Linked DNA regions of Homo sapiens. The protein of the gene in region 1 purifies or fractionates together with the protein of each later gene. This does not show direct contact. Each region holds a gene or a part of one and is shown on either strand. Other genes may lie near its edges. The genes, in order: SHMT1 and DPYSL5.

What was found.
Region 2: the proteins of SHMT1 (region 1) and DPYSL5 purify together in Homo sapiens (affinity purification with mass spectrometry; 2 studies listed by BioGRID and IntAct, with this or other methods). This does not show direct contact.

The regions. Positions count from the first base shown.
Region 1 is NC_000017.11:18,335,183-18,351,415, forward strand, and holds part of SHMT1 (serine hydroxymethyltransferase, cytosolic), read right to left. Parts: intron 13,259-16,233; coding exon 13,143-13,258; intron 12,475-13,142; coding exon 12,314-12,474; intron 5,705-12,313; exon of another isoform or gene 5,632-5,704; coding exon 5,550-5,631; intron 5,074-5,549; coding exon 4,861-5,073; intron 494-4,860; coding exon 377-493; intron 1-376. UniProt on the Homo sapiens protein: Interconversion of serine and glycine.
Region 2 is NC_000002.12:26,918,079-26,934,311, forward strand, and holds part of DPYSL5 (dihydropyrimidinase-related protein 5), read left to right. Parts: intron 1-6,808; coding exon 6,809-6,967; intron 6,968-9,174; coding exon 9,175-9,354; intron 9,355-10,176; coding exon 10,177-10,245; intron 10,246-13,561; coding exon 13,562-13,606; intron 13,607-15,179; coding exon 15,180-15,255; intron 15,256-16,233. UniProt on the Homo sapiens protein: Involved in the negative regulation of dendrite outgrowth.

The DNA.
Region 1 (16,233 bases):
CTCCACTGCCACAGGCCAGGCCCATCAAGGGCAAGGGGACTCATCCTGCAGGGTCTGGACCCCAATCTCTCTCACCTGTGCTTTGCCCTCTCCTAACTGTCAGATTCCTTCCCTAAGAGGGTGCCATGTACTTTACAAAACTCGGCCTGACCCACAGGTTTGCCTCTGGGTGGCCGTACACGTGGAGTGGATGCCATTCCCTACTGTCCCTACCTTAGGCCAGTCTCAACCATGCCCTACTCTGTGTTAGCATCTCCTGCACAGAGACAGCCCTCCAGCTTTTTCCCCAGCGTGGAAGTCCTGGCACACGATTTTGGAGGACAGGTGGGATGGGAATTAGGGGCTACAGGATGAGCAGAGGCAGATGATGTTTTACCAGCAATGGCGTGGTTGTGGGGACCTCCCTGCAGGCCAGGGAACACAGCAGAATTGATAAGAGACTCCAGGTTGTACAGAATCTCTTTGCCAGTCTTGGGATCCACACTTTTCACTCCTGGAGGAAGAAAAACATCACAGTGGGATCATAGGGGCTGTCCCCTCTTTTTCTTTTTAGGCTCAAACCCAGACTGGCCAGGGAAGAATCAAGCACAAGCCTGGCCTTTATCCTGGCATGGAGAACTGATTTGTAACACAGCGGAGCAGAGGGGACCCTTGCCTCCTGAGGGCAGACCAGTATCTTTATTTTTTGGAAACCAACACATCATGGATGACTCTGGCTGGAATACTGGTTTCAGCACCTCACCTGTCCACCTGCCTCCTCTGATGGCATCTCTTCTTAACACAACTAGAACAAGGCCTTAAAAATGAAAGGACAGGCTGGACGCGGTGGCTCACACCTGTAATCCCAGCACTTTGGGAGGCCAAGGCGGGCGGATCACGAGGTCAGGAGTTTGGGACTAGTCTGGCCAACATGGTGAAACCCCGTCTCTACTAAAAATACAAAAATTAGCCGGGCGTGGTGGTGTGCACCTGTAGTCCCAGCTACTTGGGAGGCTGAGGCAGAAGAATCGCTTGAACCCGGGAGGCAGAGGTTGCAGTGAGCCAAGATCGCGCCAGTGCACTCCAGCCTGGGTGACAGAGTGACATTCTGTCTCAAAAAGAAAAAAAGAAAAAAAAAGGACAGAAATTTCCCTCCACTAACATTGTAACCAAGAATTCAAGAATTTGCCCTGGACATCTTTCCTTAAAGAAATGTCCATGTGGCTGGGCGTGGTGGTTCATGCGTGTAATCCCAGCACTTTGGGAGGCTGAGGCAGGTGGATCAATTAAGGTCAGGAGTTCAAGACCAGCTGGGTCAACATAGTGAAACCCTGTCTCTACTAATAATACAAAAATTAGCTGGGCATGGTGGCGGGCATCTGTAATTCCAGCTACTCAGGAGGCTGAAGCAGGAGAATGCGTTGAACCCGGGAGGTGGAGGTTGTAGCGAGCCGAGATTGCACCACTGCACTCCAGCCTGGGCGACAAGAGCAAAACTCCATCTCCGGGGAAAAAAAAAGTCCATGTAATCCCAGCACTTTGGGAGGCAGAGGTGGGAGGATCACTTGAACCCAGGAGTTCAAGACCAGCATGAGCAACAAAGAGAGAACCCATGTCCACAGAAAAATTTAAAAATTAGCCAGGCATGGTGGCGCATACCTGTGGTCCCAGCTACGTGGGAGGGTGAGGTAGGAGGATTGCTTGGGCCCGGGAAGTTGAAGTTGCAGTGAGCTTTGATTGCACCACTGCACTGCAGCCTGAGTGACAGAGTGAGACCCTGTCCCCAAAAATAAAATTTAAAGAGTCTCCAAGATGCATTGAAAGAGACAACGCTCATGTGGCTAATATGAAGAATAAGGTTCCTTTCTGAGAAAAAGTTAACCATCAATAATAGCTACTATTCAGTCATAATCGGTAACATCTATCTAGAGCTTCTAGTGAGCCAAGAACTGCTCTAATCACTTTACATAAATTCATTTAATCCTCAAAACAGCAGTCCAAAGGGACAGGTACTATTATTATAGTCCCCACTCTAGAGGTGAGGAAATGAGGAACAGAGAGGCTGCACAGCTAGCCCTAAAGTCATACAGCGGGTGTGCGGCAGAGCTAGTACTTGCTCTGATAGGCTGGCTCCGGAGTCCCTCAGCACTGGGTGAAATAAATCACATCAACACACAGTGGGGGAAAAAACCAAATGTCTCCTGGGCGGGTGGGAATGGCTACCTGCCTCAGAAACATCAGCACAGCTAAAAACGGTCCTTGGAGGAGCACAGAGGCAACGGGGTGCTGAGAAGCTGAGGGGGCATGTGGCTGTGTCTAGTCCCAGCCAGGGGCTGGGCAAGAAGACCCTGCCTCGGGTAAGAGTAATGTAGTCGAACAGCCCTCTCCCTCTCCCTCCCCCTCCCCCTCCCTCTCCCCACGGTCTCCCTCTCCCTTTCCACGGTCTCCCTCTGATGCCGAGCCGAAGCTGGACTGTACTGCCGCCATCTCGGCTCACTGCAACCTCCCTGCCTGATTCTCCTGCCTCAGCCTGCCGAGTGCCTGGGATTGCAGGCACGTGCCGCCACGCCTGACTGGTTTTCGTATTTTTTTGGTGGAGACGGGGTTTTGCTGTGTTGGCCGGGCTGGTCTCCAGCTCCTAACCGCGAGTCATCTGCCAGCCTCGGCCTCCCGAGGTGCCGGGATTGCAGACGGAGTCTCGTTCACTCAGTGCTCAATGTTGCCCAGGCTGGAGTGCAGTGGTGTGATCTCGGCTCGCTACAACCTCCACCTCCCAGCCGCCTGCCTTGGCCTCCCAAAGTGCCGAGATTGCAGCCTCTGCCTGGCCGCCACCCCGTCTGGGAAGTGAGGAGCGTCTCTGCCTGGCCGCTCATCATCTGGGATGTGAGGAGCCCCTCTGCCTGGCTGCCCAGTCTGGGAAGTGAGGAGCGCCTCTTCCCGGCCGCCATCCCGTCTAGGAAGTGAGGAGCGTCTCTGCCCGGCCGCCCATCATCTGAGATGTGGGGAGCGCCTCTGCCCCGCCGCCCCGTCTGGGATGTGAGGAGCACCTCTGCCCGGCTGCAACCCCGTCTGGGAGGTGAGGAGGGTCTCTGCCCGGCTGCCCCATCTGAGAAGTGAGGAGCCCCTCCGCCTGGCAGTCGCCCCGTCTGGGAAGTGAGGAGCATCTCTGCCCGGCAGCTGCCCTGTCCGGCAGGTTGGGGGCAGCCCCCGCCCAGCCAGCCGCCCCGTCCGGGAGGGAGGTGGGGGGCAGCCCCCGCCTGGCCGTCACCCCTTCCAGGAGGTGGGGGGGCGCCTCTGCCCGGCCGCCCCTTCTGGGAAGTGAGGAGCCCCTCTGCCCGGCCGCCCCTTCTGGGAAGTGAGGAGCCCCTCTGCCCAGCCGCCACCCCGTCTGGGAGGTGTACCCAACAGCTCATTGAGAACAGGCCATGATGACGATGGCGGTTTTGTCGAATAGAAAAGGGGGAAATGTGGGGAAAAGATAGAGAAATCAGATTGTTGCTGTGTCTGTGTAGAAAGAAGTAGACATAGGAGATTCCATTTTGTTCTGTACTAAGAAAAATTCTTCTGTTAATCTATAACCTTACCCCCAACCCCGTGCTCTCTGAAACATGTGCTGTGTCCACTCAGGGTTAAATGGATTAAGGGTGGTGCAAGATGTGCTTTGTTAAACAGATGCTTGAAGGCGGCATGCTCATTAAGAGTCATCACCACTCCCTAATCTCAAGTACCCAGGGACACAAACACTGCGGAAAGCCGCAGGGTCCTCTGCCTAGGAAAACCAGAGACCCTTGTTCACTTGTTTATCTGCTGACCTTCCCTCCACTATTGTCCTATGACCCTGCCAAATCCCCCTCCACGAGAAACACCCAAGAATGATCAATAAATACTAAAAAAAAAAAAAAAAAAAAAAAAAAAAAAGAGTAATGTAGTCACCAGAGGGCTGGTGTCTCTGCTGATGCAAAGTTGGCGCATCAGGTCTCACCACAGGCTAAATGATGACCTGACCACTAACAGGCTTTCCCAGGTATGGGAATTCGAAAATAAGGGGAGTGCCTAGGGGTAGGTTATGAGGTAATGGAAAGAAAAACCTTCACTAAAATGATATTAATGTTTATACATCCATGTCTTCTAGTTTGACTACTATGAGTCTTTCTCTTTGAGAAACATGATGGATCACTGTAAGTTCACCAGAATAATGCAGCCTTGTGAGGCCTCCCAGTGGCCCCCAGCCAGCCATGCACCCTCCTTTCATTCAAACACCTGCCTCTCGAGTTCAGCAACCGGCGCCATCCTAACACATAGTGGTTGCTGATCCCCCTCCTATGTTCCTAGGACCTGGATGCACAAAAGTGAAGCAGGAGCTGTGGCTGACAGTCTCCTTCTGGGGATTCCTTTCTTTCTTTCTTTTTTTTTTTTTGAGACGGCATCTCGCTCTGTCGCCCAGGCTGGAGTACAGTGGCACAATCTCAGCTCACTGCAAGCTCCACCTCCCAGGCTCACGCCATTCTCCTGCCTTCGCCTCCTGAGTAGCTGGGACTACAGGTGCCCACCACCACACTCGGCTAATTTTTCGTGTTTTTAGTAGAGACGGGGTTTCACCGTGTTAGCCAGGATGGTCTTGATCTCCTGACCTCGTGATCTGCCCGCTTCGGCCTCCCAAAGTGCTGGGATTACAGGCGCGAGCCACCTCACCTGGCCGGGAATCCTTTCTGTAAAGCCTGTCACTGCTCCTTCCTAAGCAGCTCTTTAAGGGACTGGGATCTTAATATTTTCCAAGGATCCCAGGTCAGAGTTTTTCCCAGCTCCCTCAACTGAATCTGAACCCCCACAGGAGAAATGTAAACCATGGTACCCATCTGTACCCAACATTCGGGAGCTCACCTTTCCTGTAGAAGATCATGCCAGCTCGGCAGCCTCGCAGGGTCTTGTGAGTGGTGGTGGTCACCACATGGCAGTGTTCAAATGGGGAGGGCACCACGCCAGCCGCCACCAGCCCGCTGATGTGAGCCATGTCCGCCATGAGATACGCCCCGTTCTCATCTGCAATCTTCCGTAGCCGGGCATATTCCAGGTTTCGGGAGTAGCAGCTGGTTCCTGAGACAGGAAAGGTGACACAGCTGCATCAGAGATGTCCACCGGCCAGCTGAGTTGGCTTCACAGTGGCCTCTAGATGTGCAGATCTGAAAGCCCAGAGATTTCTTCCCTTAAAGTCTCAGAGCAAAAATGGAGAATGCCCTCAAAAAGCACCTCTGTGCTAAAGGCAACCACTCTAACTCTTCAACGTCTTGGTGGTTGAGATGGCCCCAACTACTATTGCCAGCGCAGTCAGGGCCTGACATTTCTAGATGCTTCTCTGAGAACAGTCTCACATCTTAATCTACATAGCACAAAAAGCAGCAAACACACATCTGTATCCTGAAAGAAACTAATATATGTAGACCCCAGAAACTCAGTTATCCAGGGCAGAAACTAGCAGTGGGCTCAACAGGGTGCGAACATCTTTCCATCCTCATTCTGTAAGAGGCACCAGGCTACTGGTGAACAAGGTGACTTTCCGCCCCGCGCATCACCTGCGATGATCAGCTTCGGGTGGAAGAGGCGTGCGTTCTCCTCCAGCTGGTCATAGTTGATGTAGCCAGTATCTGGGTTCACCTGTGGAATGTCAGGGAGGCAGGTTCAGGCTGCTTCCTCCAACCACACCTGCCTCCTGTCCTCCCACTTGAACTGGCTCCACCCACCATGACAAGAGGAATGATGTCCTAGATGAGGACTTGAGGGTGAGACAGGATGGATACTGGTGTGTTCAGCCTGCTCAACCAAGTATGGCTCACAGACCCAGGAGTCCCTGAGGAGTCCCAGGGTTGTAGTGAGCCCTGCTGCTGGGGCACTACCTGCTGAGAAGGAACCAAAAAGCACCTGCAGAATGAAACAAATGTGACGGGACCACACAATGGAAACCAAAATGGTTACCTTCAGGAACAAGACCAAAATGCCTGCTAATACTACTTCTATTCCAAGTATAATGAGGCAAGAAAAAGAAACAAAAGGCATAACGATTAGGAAAGAAGAAATTTAAAAACTGACATTACACACAGACAACACAATATACCTAGAAAATCAAGATGCTAGGGGCCAACTGTTAGAATAAGCAAATTTAGCAAGGTCACTGGATACAACATTGAAAAACAAGAAGTAGGGGCTGGGCGCGGTGGCTCACACCTGTAATCCCAGCACTTTGGGAGGCTGAGACGGGCAGATCATGAGGTCAGGAGATCGAGACCATCCTGGCTAACACGGTGAAACCCCGTCTCTACTAAAAATGCAAAAAATTAGCCAGATATGGTGGCGGGCGCCTGTAATCCCAGCTACTTGGGAGGCTGAGGCAGGAGAATGGCGTGAACCCGGGAGGTGGAGCTTGCAGTGAGCCGAGATTGTGCCACTGCACTCCAGCACTCCAGCCTGGGCAACAGAGCGAGACTCCATCTGAAAAAAAAAAAAAAAAAAAGCCAAAAAGTATATAAAAGCAAGAAAGATAGAAAATGAAATGTAAATAACAAAAACCATAAAAGGAAAATCATACCAAACCTTTACACAAAACATCATTGCGTTGTGTATTTTGTGTCACAAAATGCTTGACAAATTATAGTAATTAAGGCAGCACGCATTCATGGAAGGGCAGAGCATCTGGCTTAACCAGAAGCAGAACCACACACAACACAGGTCATTGGATCCATGCCAGTGGTGACGCTGCAGTGCAGTGGGGAGAGGATGACCTTTTCAATCAATGGCACTAGGTCAACTGGGCATCCATTTGGACAAAAATGTTATCTGGATGCCCGCCTCACCCACACAAATCAATTCCATATTCAGCAATCCCACTTGTGAATCTATATCTTAAGAACTTGAAATCAGTATGTCAAAGAGACATGTGCACTCCCATGTTCACTGCAGCACTATTCACAATAGCCAAGTTATGGAATAAAGCCATGTCCATCAACAGATGAATGGACAAAGGAAATGTGACACATATATATATAAACAATGTAATAATAATCAGTCTGAAAAAAGAAATTCTGTCATTTGCAACAACACCGATGAACTTGGAGGACCTTATGCTAAGTGAAATACGCCAGGCTCAGACAGACAAATACTGCATGATCTCACTTCTTTTTTGAGACAGAGTCTCACTCTGTCACCCAGGCTGGAGTGCGGTGGTGCCATCTCGGCTCATTGCAACCTCTACCTCCCAGGCTCAAGCGATTCTCCCACTCAGCCTGCTGAATAGCTGGGACCACAGGCAGTGCCACCACACCCGGCTAATTCTTATATTTTTGTAGAGATGGGGTTTCACCATGTTGCCCAGGCTGGTCTCGAACTCCTGGACTCAAGTGAGCCTCCTACCTCGACCTCCCAAAGTGCTGAGATTATAGGTGTGAGCCACCGCACCTGGCCATGTGATCTTACTTCTATGTGAAATCTAAAACAATCGAACTGCTGGGCGTGGTGGCTTATGCCTGCAGTTCCAGCACTTTGGGAGGCCGAGGCAGGTGGACCACCTGAGGACAGGAGTTTGAGACCAGCCTGGCCAACATGGTGAAACCCCGTCTCTACTAAACATTCACAAATTAGCCAGGCGTGGTGGCGTATGCCTGTAATCCCAGCTATTCGGGAGGCTGAGGCAGGAGAATCACTTGAACCCAGGAGGCGGAGGTTGCAGTGAGTCAAGATGGTGCCACTGCACTCCAGCCTGGGCGACAAAGTGAGACTCTGTCTCAAAAAAAAAAAATTAAAATTGAATAAATAAATAAATAAATAAAACAATCAAACTCACAGAAGCAGGGTAGAATGTGGTTACCAGTCACTGGAGGGTGGCAGACAATGGAGAGATACTGAGCAAAGGGTACAAAGTTGCAGTTAGACAGGAAGAAAAATAATAAATATTTAAGGAGTGGGATATGTTAGTTAACTTGATTCAATAGTTCCACACTGTATATACAAATCATAACATCACTGTGCATCCCATAATTATATATAATTTGTTTAAAAAAAAAAGTCAATTCCAAACAGATTGTAGATCTCGATGTAAAATTTAAAATAATTTTTCTTTTCTGGCAACACATCTCTTAGGAAGTTCATTTTATTAAACTTCTATAAACATATGGGTCAGCCAGGCGTGGTGGCTCACATCTGTAATCTCAGCACTTTGGGAGGCCGAGGGGGTCAGATCACCTGAGGTCAGGAGTTTGAGACCAGCCTAGCCAACATGGTGAAACCCCACCTCTACTAAAAACACAAAATTAGCCAGGCATGGTGGTACACACCTGCAGTCCTAGCGATTCAGGAAGCTGAGGGAGGAGAATCGCTTAAACCCGGGAGGCAGAGGTTGCAGTAAGCTGAGATCGTGCCACTGCACTCCAGCCTGGGCGACAAGAGGGAAACTTTGTCTCAAAAAAAAAAAAAAAAAAAAAAAGGGGTCAGCCGGATGCGGTGGCTCATGCCTGTAATACCAGCACTTTGGGAGGCTGAGTTGGACAGATCACTTGAGCCCAGGAGTTCAAGACCAGCCTGGGCAACATGGCAAAACCTTGTCTCCACAAAAAATACAAAAATTAGCCAGGCATGGTGGCATGCGCCTCTAGTCCCAGCTACTTGGGAGGCTGAAGAGGAAAGATCGCTTGAGCCCAGGAGGCAGAGGTTGCAGTGAGCCGAGACAGAGCCACTGCACTCCAGCCTGGGAGGCAGAGCCAGATACTGTCTTAAAAAAAAAAAAAAAAAAAAAGTCATGGGTAAGCACACATAACCAGCAGAGCATAGAGCGCACCACAGGAAAAACTGGGCTCTGGGATCTGAGAAGCCTCAGGGAAGAGGAGATGTGCAGAGAGGCTCCCTGTTCTGAAGGCCCTGACCCAACCTTCCTTCCTCTTACCTTGGTGTCCCCCTCAGAAACTACCAGCACATCTGGAGTGAAAGGTTTCAGGATTGGTGGTCACTCTTTCCAAATAAAAAAAGGCAGTTATAATCCAACCCAACTATAGAAGCTTGCCACAAGGTTTCGGGAACCAAGACCTCATCTAGAAAGTCAAGCTGAAAGATGATTTGTGGTTTTGTTTGCTGTGTTTTGCTTCAGGGGTGTGGTTCTTTCTCAGTCACCTGAATTTGGCAAAGAAACCGTTTTATGAAATGAAATATCAACAGCTGACCTCCAGTAAAAATGGACGTAATTCACCGGGCATGGTGGCTCACGCCTGTAATCCCAGCTCTTAGGGAGACAGAGGCAGTAGGATAGCTTGAGTCCAGGAGTTTGAGACCCGCCTGGGCAACATAGTGAGATCTTGTTCTCCACAAAAAGGAAAAAAAAAAAGATTTAAAAAAAATGGACATAATTCTAAAATTTTTTGTGTAGCCACAATTACCGGAAAAAAAAAAAAAAAAAAAAAAGCCTGTGCTGCTTTCTCCCTTTTTAATTTAATGGGTTTTTCAAAGGTTTTTCTTTTCTTTTTTTAATCTTGAAAATGAGACAAGAGAACAACTCCTAGAAGAATTCATAGGCATTTATAATAAACTGCAGATGGGGTCCACAGTGCACAGAGGATAAGGAAGGAGACCCCAGCAGTCACTTAGGACCAGGGACAGGGAGGAATTCTCGAGTCACAGTGGGGATGGGCCAAAAACACAAAATAGAAGGTTAATGTTGCTGTTGCTCTAGCCTGGCCCTGCGTGGGGCTCTTGCAGTGGAGTGGGGCAGGGGCTGAAGGTGGAGGCAGGCGGTCTGGTGAAGGCTGGGCAGGGCAGTGGCCCTGGGACACCCCCTAACCTCCAACTCTGCAGCCCGGTGGGGTGGAGGTGAGCTGCCTCTGGCTGCTGATGAATGCCAATAAGGTCTGTCTCCTCCTCCTGTCCGCCAAGGGCAGGACTCAAATCACCCCCACAGCGGGTGAGCTGCACCTCCTGCTGCCCAAGCTGGCCAGGGTCCCAGGCCCCACCTCTCCATGCCCATCCTGAGGTGGGTCCCCTCACTGCACCCACAGGACTGCAGCCTGCACAATGTACATCAAAGACGGGGGTGGCTGGAGGGAACTGGGTGCGGGACGCAGATTCTTTCTTTTTTTTTCTGGAGATGGAGTCTTGCTCTGTCACCTAGGCTGGAGTGCACTGGTGCAATCTTGGCTCACTGCAACCTCCGCCTCCCAGGTTCAAGTGGTTCTCCTGCCTCAGCCTCCTGAGTAGCTGGGATTACAGGTGCCCGCCACCACGTCCAGTTAATTTCTGTATTTTTAGTAGAGAAGGCTTTCACCATGTTGGCCAGGCTGGTCTCGAACTCCTGACCTCGGATGATCCGCCCACTTCGACCTCCCAAAGTGCTGGGATTACAGGAGTGCACCACCATGTATTTTTAGTAGAGACGGGGTTTCACTGTGTTGGCCAGGCTGGTCTTGAACTCCTGACCTCATGATCCGCCTGCCTCAGCCTCCCAAAGTGCTGGGATTACAAGCGTGAGCAACTGCACCCTGCCTTTCTTATTTATTTATTTTTTTTGAGATGGAGTTTCACTCTTGTCGCCCACTCTGGAGTGCAATGGAGCAATCTTGGCTCACTGCAACCTCCGCCTCCCAGGTTCAAGCAATTATCCCTCCTCAGCCTCCTGAGTAGCTGGAACTACGGGTGTGCACCACCACACCTGAGGAATTTTTTGTATTTTTAGTAGAGACAGGGTTTGAACATGTTGGCCAGGCTGGTCTCGAACTCCTGACCTCAGGTGATCTGCCCACCTCAGCTTCCCAAAGTGCTGTGATTACAGGTGTGAGCCACCGAGCCCAGCCAAGACAAACTATTTTGTTACTATTGTGACATGTTTCAAAATCTAGCTTCAAGGCTGGCCTTGGCCAATGAGGAGATCTGTGACTGCAAACACCTAGGTGTTCTGTGAAAAGAAATGACTGCAAAAAAGAGCACACGTGCAATCACCAGCACTGAGACAAAGGCTGAGTACACACAGAACCATGGACAGCATGCACCCAAGACCATGCAATGCCAGCCAAGCAGAAGGATGCAGTGCTACCTTTTTTCATGGTAACAAACATGAAACTAAGCAGGAATGGCACATTTATTAATAAAGAACATGAAAAGATGGTTCCGGGACACTAGAAAGAATCACCAACACTGGACACTAAAAGAAAAAGCAAGTTACCTCTTCTTCCCATTATCCTTCGTTTTTATAGATAAATCACCATGCCTGAATAAGCCCACACATCTTACAGGCATTTTTTGACCCAACTGTTTATACAGACGGGTCCCACGAAAAACAAGTATTTGCCTGGGGCCCTGCACACCCTAGAGGCAGCACTTGGCACTGGTTCTGATGGTGTTGGTTCCACTGCTGGGCTGGCTGCGTTATCAGGTATGTGCAGTGGGGTGGCAATGGCAATGGGGTGTACACCTGAGCCATACAGGTGCTCCTCAACTTATGGGGTTACATTCCAATAAGCTCATCATTAAGCTGAAAATATCATAAAGTCAAAAATGCATGTAATATACCTAACCTACCAAACATCACAACCTAGTCTGGCCTACCTTAAACATGCTGAGGACACTGTGGTACCCTCCACTGGGCAAGATAGTCAAACACAAACCTTATTTTATAATACGGTGTTGACTATCTCATGTAATCTACTGAATACTGTACTGAAACTGAAAAGCAGAATGGTCGTATGGGGGGCTTGAAGTACAGCTAATAACGCATGTCACTTTTGCACTATCCTAAAGTTGAACGCCCTAAGTCAAACCACTGTCTGTTCCTCTGTAGCCACTATACACAGGCAGGGGCTAGCCCTAACGTGGCCATGGAGGACTGTGGCTGTGGATGGTGCCGGGCTGCTGGTTTTGGTGCTGGAGCTGGGGACGTTGCCATGCCTGTAGCTACTGCATCCTTGTGCTGCTGCTGGCCCACAGGGGCTCCGAGCAGAGATGTCACCAGGCGAGGGCAGAGCTGCAGAGGTGGTGGCTGTTGCTGGGGTCCAACTGTAGTGACCTGGTTGCTATTCCCCAGGGTTGCTATTCCAAGCAGTTGCCACTGCCCCTGCCACATCTGAACTCTCCTCAGTAGTTGCCTCCCTCACTGGTTTCCCTGTGGCCTCAGCTCAGACCCTCGTCTCTCCATCCCAGCTGCCCCAGCGGGTCCTGAAAACCTGAGGAGTCCCCGCTGCAAGGAAATTAAAAACGGTGCGAGGTGGGGACTTCCTGTAGTGACACATAAACCAAACTTACCCCTGCAGGCACAGCCAAGCATCAGAGGTTTCCCAAGGAAATAAAAGCTAGGAGAGAAACACATGCTTACCTTGTAGGGCATAGATTCAAAGAAGATGGACGTGGCAGAGATTTTCTTCTTGTCTGTCATGAACCCATGGGTCAGGTGGCCCCCATCCGGAAGGTCCAGGCCCATGATGCGCCCATGGGGTTCCACCAGGGCAGTGTACACAGCAAAGTTTGCAGGGGAGCCTGAAACGAGTGGACCAGAGGAGACATGATTATTTCTAACTGAGGTACCAAGTGGCATCCGGGACCTTGGCCACTAAGCCTTCACCCAGGAGTGGCGAGAACAGGCCTTGTACCTTCCCTGAGCTCCAGGAGGTGCCCCTTCACCACCAGCCTTGAGAGGTGAAGTTCAGAGAGAGGGCACTGCCTGGGAGGGGGTATAGAGCTGGGAGCCCAAGGGTAATGCAGAGGGATGCGTGACTTATCTTTTATTTATGGCAGTTTTTTTTTTTTTTTTTTTTGAGATGGAGTTTCGCTCTTGTTGCCCAGGCTGGAATGCAATGGCGCCATCTCGGCAGCTCACTGCAACCTCCGCCTCCCAGGTTCAAGCAATTCTCCTGCCTCAGGCTCCGAGTAGCTGGGATTACAGGCATGTGCCACTACACCCAGCTAATTTTTGTATTTTTAGTGGAGACCGGGTTTCTCCATGTTGGTCAGGCTGGTCTTGAACTGCCGGCCTCAGGTGGTCTGCCTGCCTCCGCCTCCCAAAGTGCTGGGATTACAGGCGTGAGCCACTGGGCCCGGCCTATGGCAGTCCATGGCAGTCCATCTTAGGACTCTTCTTGGTGCATGTCGGCCCTGGGGGATGCACATGAAGAGGCTGCACCAGGCCATATGGATGAGACAAGCACCTGAGTAGGGCTGGACGTTGACCCCCCAGCACTGTGGGTCCAGCTTATAGGCCTGCAGGGCTCGCTTCTGACAGAGGGTCTCCAGTTCATCAATAAACTCAGTCCCGCCATAGTATCTGTGGGAGAAGAGCAGGAGACTTAGATCCACTCAGACCCAGAAAGTCTGTGCTTCACAGAGGCCAAAGAAGCTTAGGGGTGGGACAGTGAAACTAAAGTGGAGAGAAGTAATGAGAAGAGCTTGTTAACATGCAGATGCTGAAGCCAGCATGATCAAGTGTTCCACCAATGCCTCTGGAATCTACAGTCAAGAGACCAAACCAGCTGTGCAACTTGGAGCAAATATCTCATCTATAAAAAGAGGGGGTTTTGGCTGGGAGAGGTGGCTTATACCTATAATCCCAGCACTTTGAGGAGCCAAGGCAGGAGGATTGCTTGAGCCCAGGAGTTCGAGACCAGCCTGGGCAATACAGCAATATCCCCATCTCTACAAAAAATTTCAAAAAATTAGCCAGGTGTTGTGGTGTGTGCCCATAGTCCCAGCTACTTGGGAGGCTGAGAAGGGAAGATTCACTTTGGCCCAGGAGGTAAAGGCTGCAGTGAGCTGTGATCACGCCACTGGACTCCAGCCTGGACCCTGTCTCAAAAAAAAAAAAGAAAAGAAAAAGAAAAAAAAAAGGAAAGAAATCCTATCACATGCTATTAATACAACAGGGATGAGCCTGAGAACATTATGCTAAGTGAAACAAACCAGTCACCACAAGACAAGCACTGTATGATTCAACTTTTATGAGGTCCCTAAAGTAGTCAAGCTTAGGCTGGGCATGGTGGCTCACGCCTGTAATCCCAGCACTTTGGGAGGCCGAGGTGGGCAGATCACCTGAGGTCAGGAGTTCCAGACCAGCCTGGCCAATATGGTGAAACCCCGTCTCTACTAAAAATACAAAAATTAGCCGGGAGTGGTGGCGGGTGACTGTAATCCCAGCTGCTCGGGAGGCTGAGGCAGGAGAATCTCTTGAACCCAGGAGGTGGAGGTTGCAGTGAGCCGAGATCGCCCCACTGCACTCCAGCCTGGGCATCCCAGCAAGACTCAGTCTCAAAAAAAAATTTAAAGTAACTACATGCAGTGGCTCATGTCTGTAATCTCAGAGATTTGGAAGGCTGAGGTGGGAGAACTGCTTGAGGCCAGGAGTTCAAGACCAGCTAGGCAACATAGTGAGATCTCAGCTCTACAAAAAATTTTACAAATGAGCTAAGTATAGTGGCTTGCACCTATAGTCCTAGTTACTTGGAAGGCTGAGGTGGGAGGATCACTTGAACCCAGGAGTTGGAGATTGCAGTGAGCTTTGATTGTACCACTGCACTACAGCTGGAGCAACACAGTGAGACCCTAACTCTAAAAAAAATAAATAGGCCGGGCCCGGCGTAGTGGCTCACATTTGTAATCTCAGCACTTTGGGAGGCCGAAGTGGGCGGATCACCTGACGTCAGGAGTTCGAGACCAGCCTGACCAACATGGAGAAACCCCATCTCTCCTAAAAATACAAAATTAGCCAGGCGTGGTGGTGCACGCCTGTATTCCCAGCTATTGAGGAGGCTGAGGTAGGAGAATTGCTTGAACCTGGGAGGCGGAGGTTGCGGTGAGCCGAGATTGTACCATTGCACTCCACCCTGGGCAACAAGAGCAAAACTCTGTCTCAAAAAAATAAAAATAGATAAAAAATAGGCCGGGCACGGTGGCTCACGCCTGTAATCCCAGCACTTTCGGAGGCCGAGGCGGGCGGATCACGAGGTCAGGAGATGGAGACCATCCTGGCTAACATGGTGAAACCCCGTCTCTACTAAAAAATATATAAAAAATTAGCCGGGTGTGGTGGCGGGCGCCTGTAGTCCCAGCTACTCGGGAGGCTGAGGCAGGAGAATGGCGTGAACCCGGGAGGTGGAGCTTGTAGTGAGCCGAGATCGTGCCACTGCGCTCCAGCCTGGGCGACAGAGTGAGACTCCGTCTCAAAATAAATAAATAAATAAATAAAAAATAAATAGGCCAGATGTGGTTGTTCACACCTGTAATCCTAGTAATATGGAAGGCTCAGGTGGGAAGACTGCTTGAGGCCAGGAGTTTGAAACCAGCCTGGGCAACACAGCAAGACCTCATGTCTATTAAAAATTAGCCTGGTGTGGTGGCACGCACCTGTGGTCCTAGCTACAGAGAGGCTGAGGCAGGAGGATTGCTTGAGCCCAAGAGTTTGAGGCTGCAATGAGACGAGATTGCACCACTGCACTCCAGCCTGGGCAAGACAACGAGACCTTGTCATTCATTTATTCACACATACATAACATTTTGTTTTAAACCCAGAACTTTGTTTTTAGGTTTGTATCAAGCAAAGTCATTAACGTTAGGTCAACACTGTTTTCTTTTTTTTTTTTCTGAGATGGAGTCTTGCTCTGTCTCCCAGGCTGGAGTGCAGTGGTGCGATCTCGGCTCACTGCAACCTCCGCCTCCCAAGTTCAAGCGATTCTCCTACCTCAGCCTCCAGAGTAGCTGGGATTACAGGCACGCACCTCCACACCCAGCTAATTTTTGTATTTTTAGTAGAGACAGGGTTTCGACATGTTGGCCAGGCTGGTCTCAAACTCCTGACCTCAGGTGATCCACCTGCCTCAGCCTCCCGAAGTGCTGGGATTACAGGTGTGAACCACCACGCCTTGCCTATTGTTTTCAAATATTGCCTTTGATTTTAAATAATGTTCCAAAGGTAGATTAATATTAAATTATATTAACAAAATATAATGAAAACATGTAATAATTACCTTTTATTTTTATTTTTATTATTTTTTTGAGACGGAATCTCACTGTCACCCAGGCTGGAGTGCAGTGGCGCGATCTCGGCTCACTGCAAACTCCACCTCCCAGGTTCACACCATTCTCCTGCCTTAGCCTCCCGAGTAGCTGGGACTACAGGCGCCAGCCACCACACCTGGCTAATTTTTTTGTATTTTTTTTTAGTAGAGATGGGGTTTACACCGTATTAGCCAGGATGGTCTCGATCTCCTGACCTCATGATCCACCCAGCTCGGCCTCCTAAAGTGCTGG
Region 2 (16,233 bases), on another chromosome or scaffold:
GTAGCTGAGATCATGCCACTGCACTCCAGCCTGGGTGACAGAGCAAGAGTCTGTCTCAAAAAAAAAAAAAAAAAAAAAAAAAAAGCAAGTGCAGAGCCCTTCTAAATGTAGGGCCTTGTGCAGCTGCATGGGCGACATGCCCATGGAGCTGGGTGGGCCTGGACAGTGGGCTTGTGATTTGAATGGGAAAGGTGTTTCCTGCGTGCCAGGCATGGTTCCAGGTACCATACATGCATCACCTCACTTGATGAAATGCTTGGACCCTTTTTGGGGGTTGTTCACATCCCATGGTGATGTTCAGAGCTTGCTTTCCAGAGGGCCAATAAGTAGCCAACAGAACGCTGAAGGTGAAGGAGGTTACCATGAGCAATAGAGAAACTACCGAGCTGGTTATTTTTTTTTTTTCCTCTGGTACTTCGGGAGGATGTGAATAAAAGATGGAAGATAATTTTAATGTGAAAAGAAAAGGAAGTGGTTCAGCAATCCCAAGAGAGGCAGATCCATCCGAACAAATGATAGCTTTTCCAGCAGCATTAAGAGCTGCAGACATGTTTGCACTGTGCTTACCAGTTTACAGAGCACATCCACTCGTCATTTGATTCTTAGTGCAGTATTGTTCCCTCTATAAAGATTCAGTTGGCCTTAATCTATATACATACCAGTAATAGTAGATCCTGCTTTTCTGATTCCAGTCACCTCCTCAAACATACACCCCTTTTCCATGCATATTTTCGTATGAAGATATGCTCTAGGAAGTCTCTCCCCTTCCTCAATGAAAAATTCCATGAATTGGCTGTAGCCCAAGTGCCTTCTCAATAGCAGAGCGCAAAGTTTGTGCCTTGACCAGGTTCTTGGCCTTGAAGCAAGAGAACCAAATCTTGTGGGCAGGGTTGCTGGGGAGCAATTGCTACAGGAAATTCAGCAAAACATATTGGAGCGGCAGGGCAGTCCTGTAGAAGATGGTAAGAGAGTGAATCTTCAAAGGTCTTTGTCCTGATAAAGCTGGAAGTGACCAACGCATTGTTCTCTCCAATGCCGTGATGTCAGCAAATAAATCTTATCTGAAGGGCCACAAGTATCTGAAATGTCTTTCCAACTTGCTGAGCAGGACCCTGGTCAATATGGAGACCCCCATGAGCCCCACGGTGGTCTGATGAACTTCTGAAGTATAAAGATGGTGTTTATAAAAGGTTTAGACTGAGTTCTAGTACAGGTTCCTGCGCCTTGCCAAGTGTATGCCTGGAAACTGTGTCATAAAATGGATTACCATTAAATATACTGAGTTTTCTTAGGGAACAAATGAGCATCAAATAAATCCAGCTTTACCCAGTAGTATGTTATAAATGTCAAAAACAAAATAATAGCGACACTTTGAAATTGTAAAATGATGTTTCATATTCTTCCAAATAATATACAATGGTGCAGTGTCTGTTGGTTAAACAAATGATCCTAATGTCTCTGTTAATTTAATAGTGAGAGATGTCAGGATAAAAACAAATTTCCACCTATACAATGGGAAATGCTTGGCTGGACAGATTTTTTTAAACATTTATATTTTTAAAAATAAGGGCTTGGGTTGATAAATGGGCACTTTTGGTCAGCCACCAGGCTCAAGGAGGCTGTTGTGAGATCGGCTGTTCCATGATCAGGTCTGGAATAGTTGGAGATGAGGATGTTCTACAAAGCTGCAATTCTGCTTCCTGGCAGTGTCCACCTAGAATGAGGTCTCTGCTCATATGCGTTCAAGAATGCTCAAGCACTGTGTGAAGTTGTAAATGTCCATGAACTTGGAAATGCATTCATACATGGAGGCATGTTTATACAATGAATCAATTAAAAGGAATGAAATAAATCTACATAAATAAATCTTAAAGATAATATTGAGTACATGAAAGCAAGTTGCAAAAGAATATAGACAGTATGATAGATATTATTTGTATAATTTTTTTAATTGTATAAATTTTGTATAAATTTTTAAATGTTATGTGTTTACATAGTAAAAGCATAAAAACATAGATGAGAGGAATGTATGCCATCTTCAGGGAAGAGAGGGATGGGAATAGGATGGAGGGCTTTAGTTGTATCAGAAATATTTCATTTCTTTTTTTTTAAAAAAAAGCATCTGAGGTAAACATGGCAAAAATGTTAACATCTGTTAAGTTTGAGTAGTGGAAATATGGGTATATGTTTTATTATTTTCTGTATTTTACTCTGTTTGAAATATTTCATAACTTTAAAATATTTTAAACACATTAAGAATGGCTAAAATTTTAAATACTGCAGTTTTAACTTCCTCCAAATTTATTCTGAAGTGTACATTATAAAACTCATATATTCTGTTAAATTTTGGAGAAGTAGAAAAAATAAATTCCTCAGAATCTCATCACTCAAAAATAACCATTGTTGGCCAGGCGTGGTGGCTCACGTCGATAACCGCAGCATTTTGGGAGACTGAGGCATGCAGATCACTTGAGGTCAAGAGGTCAAGACCAGTCTGGCCAACATGGTGAAACACCATCTGTACTGAAAATACAAAATTAACCGGGCATTATGGCAGGTGCCTGTAATCTCAGCTACTCAGGAGGCTGAGGCAGGAGAATCACTTGAACTCGGGAGGCGGAGGTTGCAGTGAGCCAAGATTGCACCACTGCACTCCAGCCTGGGCCACAGAGCAAGACTGTGTCTCAAACAAACAAACCATTGTTAATATTTTGGTCTATTTCCTTGCATTTTTATTTCTTGTGTGGGGAGTATGTGTGTTTAAACATGGTTCCAAGCATTTTGAATCAAGTCTTTTTCACTCATTACAGTATAAAACTTTTTCCGTGTTTTGACAGCCTTCGTGAACATCATTTTTTTAAATATAAAGTTTCACATTTAATTTGGTCATGAATTCATAAATACATAAGTATTTTGTACACCATGTGCTTCCTTGTATTGTTTGTATTATAACACATTTTAAATAGGGACCTTTGACAGGGCAGAAGCATGAAAGGACACCAACCACGAGCAACACACTATACTATGGCTGTCCTGTGTCACATGCTATTTGGCCCGGGGATATAGCAAAACCTAACGTAACTAAACAAAAAAAACCCCAATTATTTCATGTTGTCAGGAAGCTTACCTTAAAAGAATAGCTCGGCCTGGCGTGGTGGCTCACGCCTGTAATCCCAGCACTTTGGGAGGTCGAGGTGGATCACCTGAGGTCAGGAGTTCGAGACCAGCCTGACCAACATGGTGAAACCCCGTCTCTAGTGAACATCATTTTTATTGGCTTCCATTAAAGATCTTCTGCAGCGTACTTAACCAACACCATTTTTTGTGTAAAAAGTCATGAGCATTCAGCAATCACATGTTCTTAAACATCATCCTTTTGAAAGCCTCGGGAACACAATTGGGCTGTGCCTTGCTGCCGATTTCTACAAGGCTGTTTTGTGGGGGATGACACTAAAAAGGTCTGTCACATCTGTGATACCACTTTCCTGTGAAAACAGAGCTTGTCAGCATTCATCCTGTGGGTTGGAATGGTACATATTCAAAAAGCCAACTCTATGTATGTCTTGCCTAAGAGGAAACAAGTGCTTGAACATCAGTGTGTGGTGTGGGCTTGCGAGCCTGCAGCTGGGGGAGAGTTTGCTGATCCAGTGAAACTCTTGTTTCGAGGCCTTGGGGTAACAGCGGTAATAATTATTCCAGATACTTATGTGCATGCCCCTCCCAGCTCATAGATGCTCTCACATCCATTGCCACCTGACCCTCTGGGGACCCCTGAGAAGTAAGGTGCAGGTCAGGGGGCACGTGGCTGCTCCTAGATTACAACCAACACGTGGGAAAGTCAAGACCACCTCCTATGCTTCCAACTCCTTCCTGAACTATTTTCAGTTCCTGTCCTTAGACCCAGGCAAAAGGGGCCTCTTCCCAGGGCTCTGGACTTTAGGGTCCTCTTCGGGCCCTCCAACAACTTGTACCCCTGCCCCATAGGTCTGGGGATTGTGTCTACCCAGACCCCACTCACCCATTCCTAAACTACACTCTGGGTCCCTAGAATTCCCTGAGAAACAGCCCTGAGCATTCCAGAGCCTACAAAACCCCGAATCTCTCCTCCTGGGGGACAGACCACCAATGTGTGCATACCAGGCTCAAGGACAGCATTTTTGCAGAAGGTGGACAGAGCTTAGGTCTGCAGGCTGCAGGATCAATTCAGGATAGGCGCGTGTGGGCTGGGGGCAGGCACAGAGGCTGAGGCCAACTATCCCTGAAGTGTAGCTCAGAATTTTAAGGAACTTGAGGATTCTAAGGGCCAGGCCCTTTTGGCCTTTATGAAGATGTATTTGACAGAGTAGGAGGATAGAGTATATTCTGTGTAATGGTTTTTTAGCTTGATCTAACTTTTGAGTGTTTAGAGAATCAGCACATGATCCTCCTTTTCTCCTCTTGCCCTGGGACCCACAGTATGAGGACTGGTCCTGGCTCTTTTATCTCACTGTGCTGTTTCCAGGTTCCTCTTTTCCTATCCAAGCCTGCAGAGGTACTGTGGGAGTGCAAAGGAAAGCAATCTAGAGCCACAGAAAAATGAAACAATTTAGTGTGTAAAGCTCAATATACACCCCCACGTGCACATGTAAAAGCAAGAGATGCATTTCAGGACAAAATAGAGTACAACCACCTGCTGTGAGGATGAATCAGCCTGGCACGATCCAGCAAAATCGGAAATAGAAGCCTGCTAGTAAAGCTACAATCTGCACTGCTCTCCTTCTCCCGGTTCCTCTGCCGCCCCCATCACAGCTCCTGCAGGTGCCACAGAACTACCACCCTCTGTTGGTTGCTTTAAGCTGTGCAAGCAGTCAAACCACTGAGTTCCCCAGGACGACTGGGAACATTCTCGCTGGCCCAGCCTGCGTCATGGAACATCAAGGTTGTGAGAGTTTTCATTTTAATTGCTGTTGGGCCACTGAGCTAATTTTTTTTCAGTCCCTTATTCCCCAGCAATATTTTTCATTTGTGATCAAGGATTTAACTGAATAGAGAAGCATGAAACCATTAAGACAATTTCATGGAGCTCTTTTTCTCCCCTACAGAAAACAGATAAACACCTAAATTCTGGCTGGGTGCAGTGGTTCATGCCTGCAGTCCCAGCACTTTGCGAGGCCAAGGTGGGAGGATCACTTGAGCCCAGGAGTTTGAGGCTGCAGTGTGCTATGATTGCACCACTGTACTCCAGCCTGGGCAACAGAGTGAGACCCAGTCTCAAACAAAAACAAAAACCTAAGTTCTGAGTAACTAAACACACATGTTAGGACAACACTTTTACCACATCTGTTCCATAAGCAATGTTTTACTTAACCTTCACAACTACCCAACAAGGAAGCCACCCTATTGTGTAGGTAAAGACTTTGCATCCAGAGAAGTTAAGTAACCTGGCAGAGGTTATTCCAACCATGAGGGAGCAGAGCAGGGACTTGAACGTGGAGCCGTGAAGCACTGTAAGGACTCAAACCATTTCTCACCAGAAAAAGAGTCACTTTGTCTTAGAGCCCTCACAAAGACTCTCATGTTATGGGACTCTCAATTATTTAATTTAATTAATTTATTTATTTTGAGACAGTTTCACCCTTGTTGCCCAGGCTGGAGTGCAATGCCGCATTCTTGGCTCACTGCGACCTCCACCTCCCAGGTTCAAGCAATTCTCCTGCCTCAGCCTCCCAAGTAGTTGTGATTACAGGCACCCACCATCACACCCAGCTAATTTCTGTATTTTTGTAGAGACGGGGCTTCACCATGTTGGCCAGGCTCATCTTGAACTCTTGACCTCAAGTGATCCACCCACCTCAGCCTCCCAAAGTACTAGGATTACAGGTGTGAGCCACTGCACCCACTCTCACTTATTTTAATTCTATTTTAAGTTTTGTTTGGGAACAACACATTAGCCTGAAATAGCCTTTGATCGATGCTAGTTTTGGAACTTCACAGAAGTCCCCTGATGAAATTCACTTTTAAAAAGTTGAGTGGGGGAATCTCTAATACAGATTTAGTCATTTTTCCTGGGGGTTCACTCTATGATTGCGAGTGAGGCTTTTTAACAATTTCTTTTTAAAGTGGTATCTTGCGGAGTTGTGAATAGGATCCGTTTTCACTGATAAATCACACATGCATCTAAAAAATGCCTGTCTCAAACAAGATAGATGAAAATGAAGCCCCTATGCTTAGAAAAACTGAAGACAAAGACCCTGAGGTTGAAGATGCGTGCAAAATGTTTGAACAAAATTGCTTCATGAAATTTGAGAGCATAAAACAAAACAATATATCCAAATTAACATTTTCTATATCGTGGTTCAAATATACGTGTGTAACTAAGTAAATGATATAAACAGACATTTGATTATGCCATCAATATTATGTTATTATATGATACAACACTATATTATGTTATATATTACATGCAGACATTTGATCATGTTATCTATAGAGTCAATTGGCTAAAAATCGTTTGGGGAGAGAATCTCCTCATTGGGAAGATAGGCCTTAGGTCGGGTGACCCACGATGTGGTTTTTCCAGCGCGCCAAGCTGAAACCCTGGCGGAGGAAGAAGCAGGTTTGGGGACCCGTGGTCATGATGAAGGTCGCGCTGGCTCTCGCACCTCCACATGGCTCTTTACAGTTTCCCAAACCTCGCTGCCCTTGGTCCTCACAGCCTCTTGTGAGGCAGGGCCTGTCTTTGAATGGACCATGAGGACCATGTCTCACCACATCATTGACTCGGGGGCAGGCAGGGCTGTGACGAGACTGCCTTTTCCCGTCTTCCCAGGCAGCACTCGTCGGAGGCACCACCATGATCATCGGCCACGTCCTGCCCGACAAGGAGACCTCCCTTGTGGACGCTTATGAGAAGTGCCGAGGTCTGGCCGACCCCAAGGTCTGCTGTGATTACGCCCTCCACGTGGGGATCACCTGGTGGGCACCCAAGGTAACAGTGCTGGTGGGATCCCAGAAGAAGGCACAAGTGGTCTTGTAGGCAGAGGGGCTGGTTGGGGTGCAGTGCCTCCTGCTTGTGTGGGGCACCCCTCCCACTACCATCCTAGCTCCCCACAATGCCAAAAGAAAACACACTTGGGATTCCATAAGGGGAGCGGATGGGCTTGTGCTGCTTAACTTAATGAGCCATTTTCCGGCAGGCACAGAGAGGCCAAGGCCAGAGCCCAGGCCTTGGGGATGCAGTTTCATTGCTCTGACCATGAGGCTCTTACCGTCTCGTGTGAATGTAGGGCACCACTGACAGGTCATGGGCAGTGCTGCTGAGAAGAGGCCTGAGCAGGGCTCAGGTGCAGAGGGTCATATCCCATATCCTATGTGTACTGAGAGTCCACCACACTGCGCTGAGGTCTCCGAACTGAGGCTCCCATCCTGCCTCAGTACTGTCTGGAATGAAAGGAATGTGGTATGCTTTTTTCCTACTGGGGGCCCAGCTTCTGCTCTGAGAAGCATCGAGGCTGTCCTGGTCTGTGACTGAGGCTGGCACCCCCTGAGCCTTTCTCAGTTCAGCCTCTGTGCCTCCTTTGTGTCTGTGCCCCTGGCCTCTGGCTTTCCTGTCCTCCCCCTGCCCAGGCCCCAGGGTCAGAGTCCAGACTCCTCTCCCCGGATTCCCACTTCCTTGCTCTTCCTAATCTACAGGCATTTCGATTTGGCTTTGTTTCTGGGGTTTTTCTGCTTTTTTGCCCAGGGTAGCAGTCTGGATATTCATTCTTTCATCAATTATTTATTAAGCCCCATGTACCAGTACTTTGGTGGGTGCCCCAGAATCATAAAAATAATAAGCATTATTAGTTTTACCAACTCAGGAACTGCCTCTTCATTTTCCGTCAAAAACCCACTTGTAACTGCTGCTAATCAGAGTGTATATTCAGGGCAGCTTGAATCTGTGCTCCCAGGTGGACATCCTCAAGCTTTGAGCTCGAATAAACTCTGTTCTTAATCATAAAAAGAAAAAAGAAGTTTTATGAAGTTCTTCAGTTGCAGGCCCTGGTATAAAGGGCCTAACACCCTTCTCAGATGATAACCTAAAGCCTCACTATATTTCTGCCCTCGGGTCTTAGCCTTGAGCTGGGGGCTCACCCGGTTTCTTCATTATTTCTGACCTGGCACTTATAGAAGACCTCCTCCCGGTTCTGGGCCAGAGGTGCAGATCACGCTGAATGTCAGCCATTCCTTATCTCAAATGGGGGTCTCCTTTTTGGACACTCTCCTGGGTGAGAGGCCTCTACCTCTGAGCCACTCTCTACTTCCCCTGGAGCTGGCCTAGAATAGAGGGTCTTCTCAGGTTCCCAGCAGCACAGAAGCCAGGCCAACCCTCCCTAATTTCCTGGAGCTTATGGTGACTTTCATGCATCAGGAATTTAAAATTCTGTTTTATAATAATCAAATAAATGTTTCTAATTATAGATGTGAAAAATAGAAAAGAAAGGAAGTACATAATCCAGTAACCCCCAGCACCATCCCTGCTGTTAAACTTCTTTCTTTCCCATCTTTTTTCATCCATGCTTTCACAGAGTAGCTATTTTGCATAGGTGTGAGCATTTTCTATTTTGCCATGAAGTTCATGAACCAGCAATATAATGGCCACTTAATATTCTACCAAGTGGATGAACCTGAACTTATTTTCCTGTTATCAGGCCAATGTTGCTTCCATGTTTTTCCTAGTACAAATAATGTTAGGAATATCCTAACTCTCATAACTTTGTTCATGTTTAGCTTTGTTCCTAAATTTGGTTTTCCCAGGACCTCTGGATTTTTAGCATTAGTATGCCTTCTTTGTAATGCCAGGCAACAGCCCACAGAAATTAAAATCATTATTCCTATGTTTACCATTAAGGCTGGTTTGGAGACAGACATAGGGGACAGGCCTAAGTGATAGGAGAAACGTGCCTATAAGGTAACAATGTGGCTCCTAAACTGTGTCGTGTTGACAATTTTCACAGTACTTCCGCATCCATCTACTCAGGTGGCCTCACAGCAGCCTGTGGGGTGGGAGGAAAGTGAGATAGAGAGGTGTGGGGGGTCAACCGACAGACTGAGCTGGGGCAGGCCCCACATCTCCCCCATGCTGGGCCGGTGCCTGCCAGTCGGCCTCTTGGGTGTCTGCCCTCACGCAGCATTGCCCTTCTACTTGTTCTCCAGGTGAAAGCAGAAATGGAGACACTGGTGAGGGAGAAGGGTGTCAACTCGTTCCAGATGTTCATGACCTACAAGGACCTGTACATGCTTCGAGACAGTGAGCTGTACCAAGTGTTGCACGCTTGCAAGGACATTGGGGCAATCGCCCGCGTCCATGCTGAAAATGGGGAGCTTGTGGCCGAGGCAAGTCTGCAGCCAAGAATATTGGATGGAGGGACACCAGTGGAGACAGTTAGTTCTCAGGGGATTCCTGACCACCCGTCACTGATCCCACAGGATTCAGACAAAATCAGTTGTTAAAGTGTGAGGTGTGGACACCCCAGCTGTCAGATCTTGGTCAGAAAATCCAAACTTTACTACTGTCTGTAAAAAACAAATCTCTTTTTATGGTTCAAAAAGGCTTCTAAGTCGTAGGTGATGATGTCTTAATTCTAATGATATGAGATTTAAATTCCATTATAGCAGAGAATTTGGAGCACCTCTCAGACATATTTTTAATGAGATTTGATATACAGAATAAATAAGAATCCGCTTCCCATTTGGCCTCTTCAGAGGATCTGAGACATTAAAGAGATCTATTCATGGCACCAGGAAGGATAAGCCTCTGGTGCATTCTCCTAGGTCTTGGGGTAAGGGCTAGCCTAGCAGTTGCTGGAAGCTAGAGCTTAGTCTCGATTTCCAGAGAGGGAATTCTGAGTTTGAAATCAGTAAAGAGTGCTTGTCTTTGGTGTCCCAGGCCTGTTGCTAGTTATAATACTTAACTGTATTTTTAAGAGAACAAGATATGTTCAGTCATTATGAAGTGAGAATCAGGAGAGCCCCACTGCATGGGCGGCCTGTGCATGCTCTGCCTTCTTTAGAAGACGAACACTGCAGAAGTGAGAAAAGAAGCAAGCCTATTGAAACAGGCGGTGTCTAGCATATTTCACTGTCCCTTGGGTTCAGTATTTTCTTACACGGTGTCTCTGTGATTCTCTCCATTTTCTTTCTCTTGCTGTTATCCAGGGTGCTAAGGAGGCACTGGATTTGGGGATCACAGGCCCAGAAGGAATCGAGATCAGCCGTCCAGAGGAGGTGAGAAACACTTCCTGTAGCCTTTGTCAGCGTCTCTCATGTAGATTGACAGAATCTTCCAGGATGGAGGAGACATCAAACATACAAATTAGCCAGGCACAAGGGCTCATGTCTGTAATCCCAACATTTGGGAGGCTGAGGTGGGTGGATGGCTTGAACCCAGGAATTTAAGACCAGCCTGGGCAACATGGTGAAACTCCGTCTCTACTAAAAATACAAAAAAAATTAGCTGGGCATAGTGGTGCATGCCTGTAGTCCCAGCTAACTACTTGGGAGGCTGAGGCAGGAGGATCACCTGAGCCCAGGAGGTTGAGGCTGCAGTGAGCCGTGATGATGCCACTGCAATCCAGCCAAGGTGATAGAGTATATATATATATATATACACACACACACATACATATATATACGCACACACACGCACACACATACGTGTGTGCGTGTGTGTGTGTGTGTATAGCATCATTTTCTCCACGGGTGAAATTTCCATTTGATTCTGATTTCAAGGATCTAGGGGAGACAATGTCAGCACACCTGGGGTTGCTGTGCCCAAAACTGAATCAAGAGACAAAAGACAGACTGAAAAGGCCTTCAGGTGTTAGAAGAAATTTCAAACTATAAACTCTGCCTTTGGGGGATGACATTCCTTTGAGCATCTGAGGAATACTTTGGACCAGGGGTCACCAACCCCCAGGTCATGAACCGGTACAGGACCGCAGAGCAGGAGGTGAGCAGCGGGCCAGCTGAGAGCCCCCTGGGCTCCACCTCCTGTCTGATCAGTGGTGGCCTTAGATTCTCATAGAAGTGTGAAGCCTATTGTGAACTGCACATGCGAGGGATCTAGGTTGCACGCTCCTTATGAGAATCTAACTAATGCCTGATGATCTGAGGTGGAACAGTTTCTTTCTTTATTTTATTTTATTTATTTTGAGATGGAGTCTCGCTCTTGTTGCCCAGGCTGTAGTGCAATGGCGCAATCTCGGCTCACTGCAACCTCTGCATCCCGGGTTCAAGCCATTCTCCTGCCTCAGCCTCCCAAGTAGTTGGAATTACAGGCATGCACCGCCACACCCAGCTAATTTTGTATGTTTAGTAGAGACGGGGTTTCACCATGCTGGTCAGGCTGGTTTCGAACTCCTGACCTCAAGTGATCCACCCACCTCAGCCTCCCAAAGTGCTGGGATTACAGGCGTGAGCCACCGTGCCCAGTCCTGAGGTGGAACAGTTTCATCCTGAAACCATCCCTCCCCATTTCCCACCACCACTGCCCCATCCCTGTCCTGGTCTGTGGAAAAATCGTGTTCCACGAAACCGGTCCCTGGTGCCAAAATGGTTGGGGACTGCCGCTTTGGACCCTTTCCACCAAAAACAGGAGACACATACAAGTCTATGCTCCTCCCCCTCATTACCTGCTGAGATGGTCATTCAAAGCTGTTTTCCGCCTGCCCTCTGGCTTTATCCCTGTGCACAGTTTTGCATGGCATTGACACAAATCCCCTACAGTCCCCCTGCTAAAGAATTCTGCTCTAGAGGGACCACATTAGACGAATAACGCATTCCTGCCCTATTACCCTGTTTACACATTCTCTACTGTTTTAGAAGAGGGGGAGAAACTTCTCATTTCTTCAAAGCCTAAAAATGCAGATGGGTGGTTGGTTATCCATGAGGGATTGAGGGGGAGGCCTCGAGGGACAAGGAGCAGGACACAGGATGTGGTGGCACTGCCATTACCCAGAAACCAAGTTGGCCCACGAGTGGGTCCGCTGAGGAGTGCCCCCTCACTGCCCTGATCAGTGCCTGTGTTTCAGAGCCCTTGAATATAGGTCCTGTTTGGCACTTCTGAATTGGTAGAGAAACACACACCAGATTCGACTGAAACACAGAGGGTATGCCTGTGAGAACAGGAGAGAGCAAGGGGTGGACACACACACTAGACTTTCTTTGTTACTTAATACAAGGGAAAGAGCAAGGCTTTGGCTGTGGTCGTAATACCAATAATTATCACCGCCATTATCTATTGGTTAAAGGTGGGAGGGCCCTGGGTCTATGCCAGGGGAGATGTTGCTCCCCAGGGGAAATTTGACAATATCTAGAGATATTTTTGCTTGTCCCAACCTGGGGGGCAGGGCGGATGCTACAGGCATCTAGCGAGCAGAAGCCAGTGATACTGCTAAACATCCCACAATGCGCAGACACCCCCACCATAAAGAATTACGCAACTCGGCTGGGTGCAGTGGCTCACACCTGTAATCCCAGCACTGGGAGGCTGCGGCAGGAGGATTGCTTGAGCCCAGGAGTTTATGACCAGCCTGGGCAATAAAGGGAGACCCCCTCCATCTCTGCAAAAACTTTTTAAAAATTAGCCAAGCATGGGCCGGGCATGGTGGCTCACACCTGTAATCCCAGCACTTTGGGAGGCCAAGGCAGGCAGATCACGAGGTCAGGAGATCGAGACCATCCTGGCTAACATGGTGAAATCCTGTCTCTACTAAAAATACAAAAAATTAGTCGGGCATGGTGGTGGGCGCCTGTAGTCCCAGCTACGCGGGAGGCTGGGGCAGGAGAATGGTGTGAACCCAGGAGGCGGAGCTTGCAGTGAGCCAAGATTGCGCCACTGCACTCCAGCCTGGGCGACAGAGCAAGACTCCGTCTGGGAAAAAAAAAAAAAATTAGCCAAGCATGGTAGCGCATGCCTGTAGTCCCAGCTGCTCAGGAGTCTGAGGTGGGAGGATCGCTTGAGCCCTAGAGGTGGAGGCTGCAGTGGGCCATGATCATGCCACTGCACTCCAGCCTGGGAGACAGAGTGAGACCCTATCTAAAAAAAAAAAAAAAATATATATATATATATATGTGTGTGTGTGTGTGTGTGTGTGTGTGTGTGTGTATATATATATATATATATATATATATGAATTATACAACTCAAATGCCAATAGTACCATGCGCAGAAACCCTAATCTAGGCTAATTTCCGGAGTCAAATCAGCCACTATTTCTCCTTTGCTGCAGTTCTGAGGTGGCTATGGAGAGAATACACCAGAAAACAAGGAGAGACATGACCTTGGGTTTTTATTTACTTTTGTTTCCTTGCCTTTTAATTAAGCCCCAAGTAGCATCCAGCAAGGGCGTGCCTGGTATTGTAAGACCTAGAATTCTCCCTCACTGTGAGCCAAGGTAGTTGGAGGTTAGTGCCTCTGCCCGGGCTTTGCCCCGAGCCAACCCCTATGGGTGCAGTTGCTCCATGAAGGGGAGAGTATGGTGTGGGTATCCTTGGAGGAGATGGTGAAGTTTGGTTTCCTCCTGTCCTTTGTTTCTAACAGCTGGAAGCTGAAGCCACTCATCGTGTTATCACCATTGCAAACAGGGTAAGTCCCCCGATGTCCACTGTGGGATTAGAAACCAACCTTGGCCAGGCACGGTGCTGATGTCTGTAATCCCAGCACTTTGGGAGGCCGAGGTGCGTGGATCACCTGAGGTTAAGAGTTTGAGACCAGCCTGGCCAACATGGTGAAACCCCATTGCTACTAAAAATACAAAAATTAGCTGGGCGTGGTGGCGTGCACCTGTAATCCCAGCTACTCAGGAGGCTGAGGCAGGAGAATTGCTTGAACCCAGGAGGCGGAGGTTGCAGTGAGCCAAGATCGTGCCAACTGCAATCTGTCCTGGGTGACTGAGCGAGACTCTGTCAAAAAAAAAAAAAAAAAAAGAAAGAAAAGAAAAGAAAGAAAGGAAAGAAAGAAAGAAAGAAAGAAAGAAAGAAAGAAAAGAAAAAAGAAAGAGAAAGAAAGAAAAGAAAAAAGAAAGAGAAAGAAAGAAAGAGAAAGAAAGAAAGAAAGAAAGAAAGAAAGAAAGAAAGAAAGAAAGAAAGAAAGAAAGAAAGAAAGAAAGAAAAGAAAGAAAGAAAGAAAGAAAGAAAACCAACCTCTACGATGCAGCCCCATTCTGCTCTGGGTGCCAGCACCATGTCTTGCCCACAGGAACCCAGAGCTGTTTGCTGACTGAGCGCTGTCATGCCCACCATCCTTGCATTCACCCTTCTCACCACCAGCTTTCCATTCCACCCCGCCGAGCCTGCTGAAGCTCAGTTCATTGCTCACGTGTAAACTCAGTCCAGCTCCTAAACTCTACATCCTCCTAATGTGATAAGCAAAGAGAACAGAATAACATCTGGGGAAACAGAATTTCCCAATTGCACTTTAGAGCTCTGGCCGCTGGACAAGGACATTGTTTCACTGTCATGACAATAGTTATTTATCAATTACTTCCTGGTGGAACTTAACCCAGAATAAGGAAAGACCCAAACAACAAAAAGTCAGTTCCTTGCCTTTTAGCTCAAGCATATGCTCAGAGGAGTTAAGCCATGGACCGTGGTTGCACAGCTTAGTAGAGAAAAAGCTAACCAGTATTACAGTCCAGGTGTCCGTTCGCAAGGTCAGCCTTCTCTTGCCTAGACTCTGAACCCTAACCCCCTTGTATTTTGTTCATCTCCAGGGTGCATTCTGTCTACTGATAAGCAGCCTTCAGACAGCAGGCATCGTAATTTTAGATACAGAATACACGACTAACTCTAGGTCATCACGTTTATGAACAGGAAATTAAAATAGGAAAAAGAGTTCCCCCCTTTTAAATTACAGTCATGGTTGTCAGATGGGAGAAAATGCGAGGTTCAGACTTGACGGTCTTGAACTTCACAGGCTGGGCTTCCCGGTGGGCTCTGGTGCTGGAGGCTGTTCTCTGCCTCCCCGTATCATGCAGTTCCTGCAACCTTGCCCTGACTGCCAGCCCTGCATTCTCCGCTTAAGGACTGTCACCTTGAGGGTGGGGTTGAGTGACGCAGGGGGAGGCGCTGGTGCCAGGGCTGACTTTGCCAGGGTTATTCTGATGCTTGTGAAGTTTATGGGTCAACCCTCCCTACTTCCCACTGTTTCTTGTGTTTAGACTCACTGTCCAATCTACCTGGTCAACGTGTCCAGTATCTCGGCTGGTGACGTTATCGCAGCTGCTAAGATGCAAGGTGAGTCCATAGACTTGGCTGGACAGAGCAGGTCAAGTGGAGGGACTGGAGATGGATGGGGCCCATTAGCCGTGCTCACTCCTGGCCCCGGCTCCTGAAACCAGGACCTGAGCCAGCCCTTCCCTTTCATCTGCCACCGTCTTCCTCAGAGCTGCCCTGTGCTATGCTGGCTTTAGTCTGCTAGAACATGAGCTTTTTCTTCTGCAAATTTGTATGCATAACAGCTTTACGGAAGTGTCTGTCACTTCTCCTGGGTCTGGTAACATTTTCCAAGTTTTAAACCCACTCATTAATTAGTGTCTTTTTGGCCTCATAGATTTTACTAGCAGTTGCCTTGGCAACTAACATAAAATGCTGGACCAGTTTCAGTGGGCATTTCAGGGGCTGTTTGGGAAGTCCCTAAAGAAAGAACAGTGTGTGGGCCCAGCTTCCTTTTAGCCTCCTGGAACCCTGTGTATGAGTCCGAGGGGCACTTGTATGGCTTCTGTTGCGGATCGCCTGGCAGTACCTAAAGGCTTGCAGATGCTTGGAGTCCAGCCCCGCCCCAGGTGCTGGTGAGGGCCTGGCAGCAGGAGAAACAAAGTCACAGTCACAAGCCTGGGGAGACAGATCAGAAGCAAGGGCATCTCAGCCTTCAACTATAATCGATCAGAAGCAAGGGCATCCTGGCCTTCAACTCTATCGCCCTCTAGATCCCGCCACCTGCCTCTCCCCTCACTGAAGCCCCTTGGAGGGTCTCGCCTAGACTGTCGTCCCAGCCTGGTGACTGCTCCCACCTCCTGTCTCCCTGTCCTCCAGCCCTGCTACGGCCCTCCCTGTCCTACCACAACCGTTCTCTTGAAGCTGCTCACAGCAACTGCCTGTCCAGAAAACAGTCTAGACTGCTCTTTAGCGTGGCATTCGTGGCCCTGCATGCCTGTTCACCCACCGTCAAGCTCCATCTGCCAACAGCACCCTGCACACACCAGTGCTCTGGTC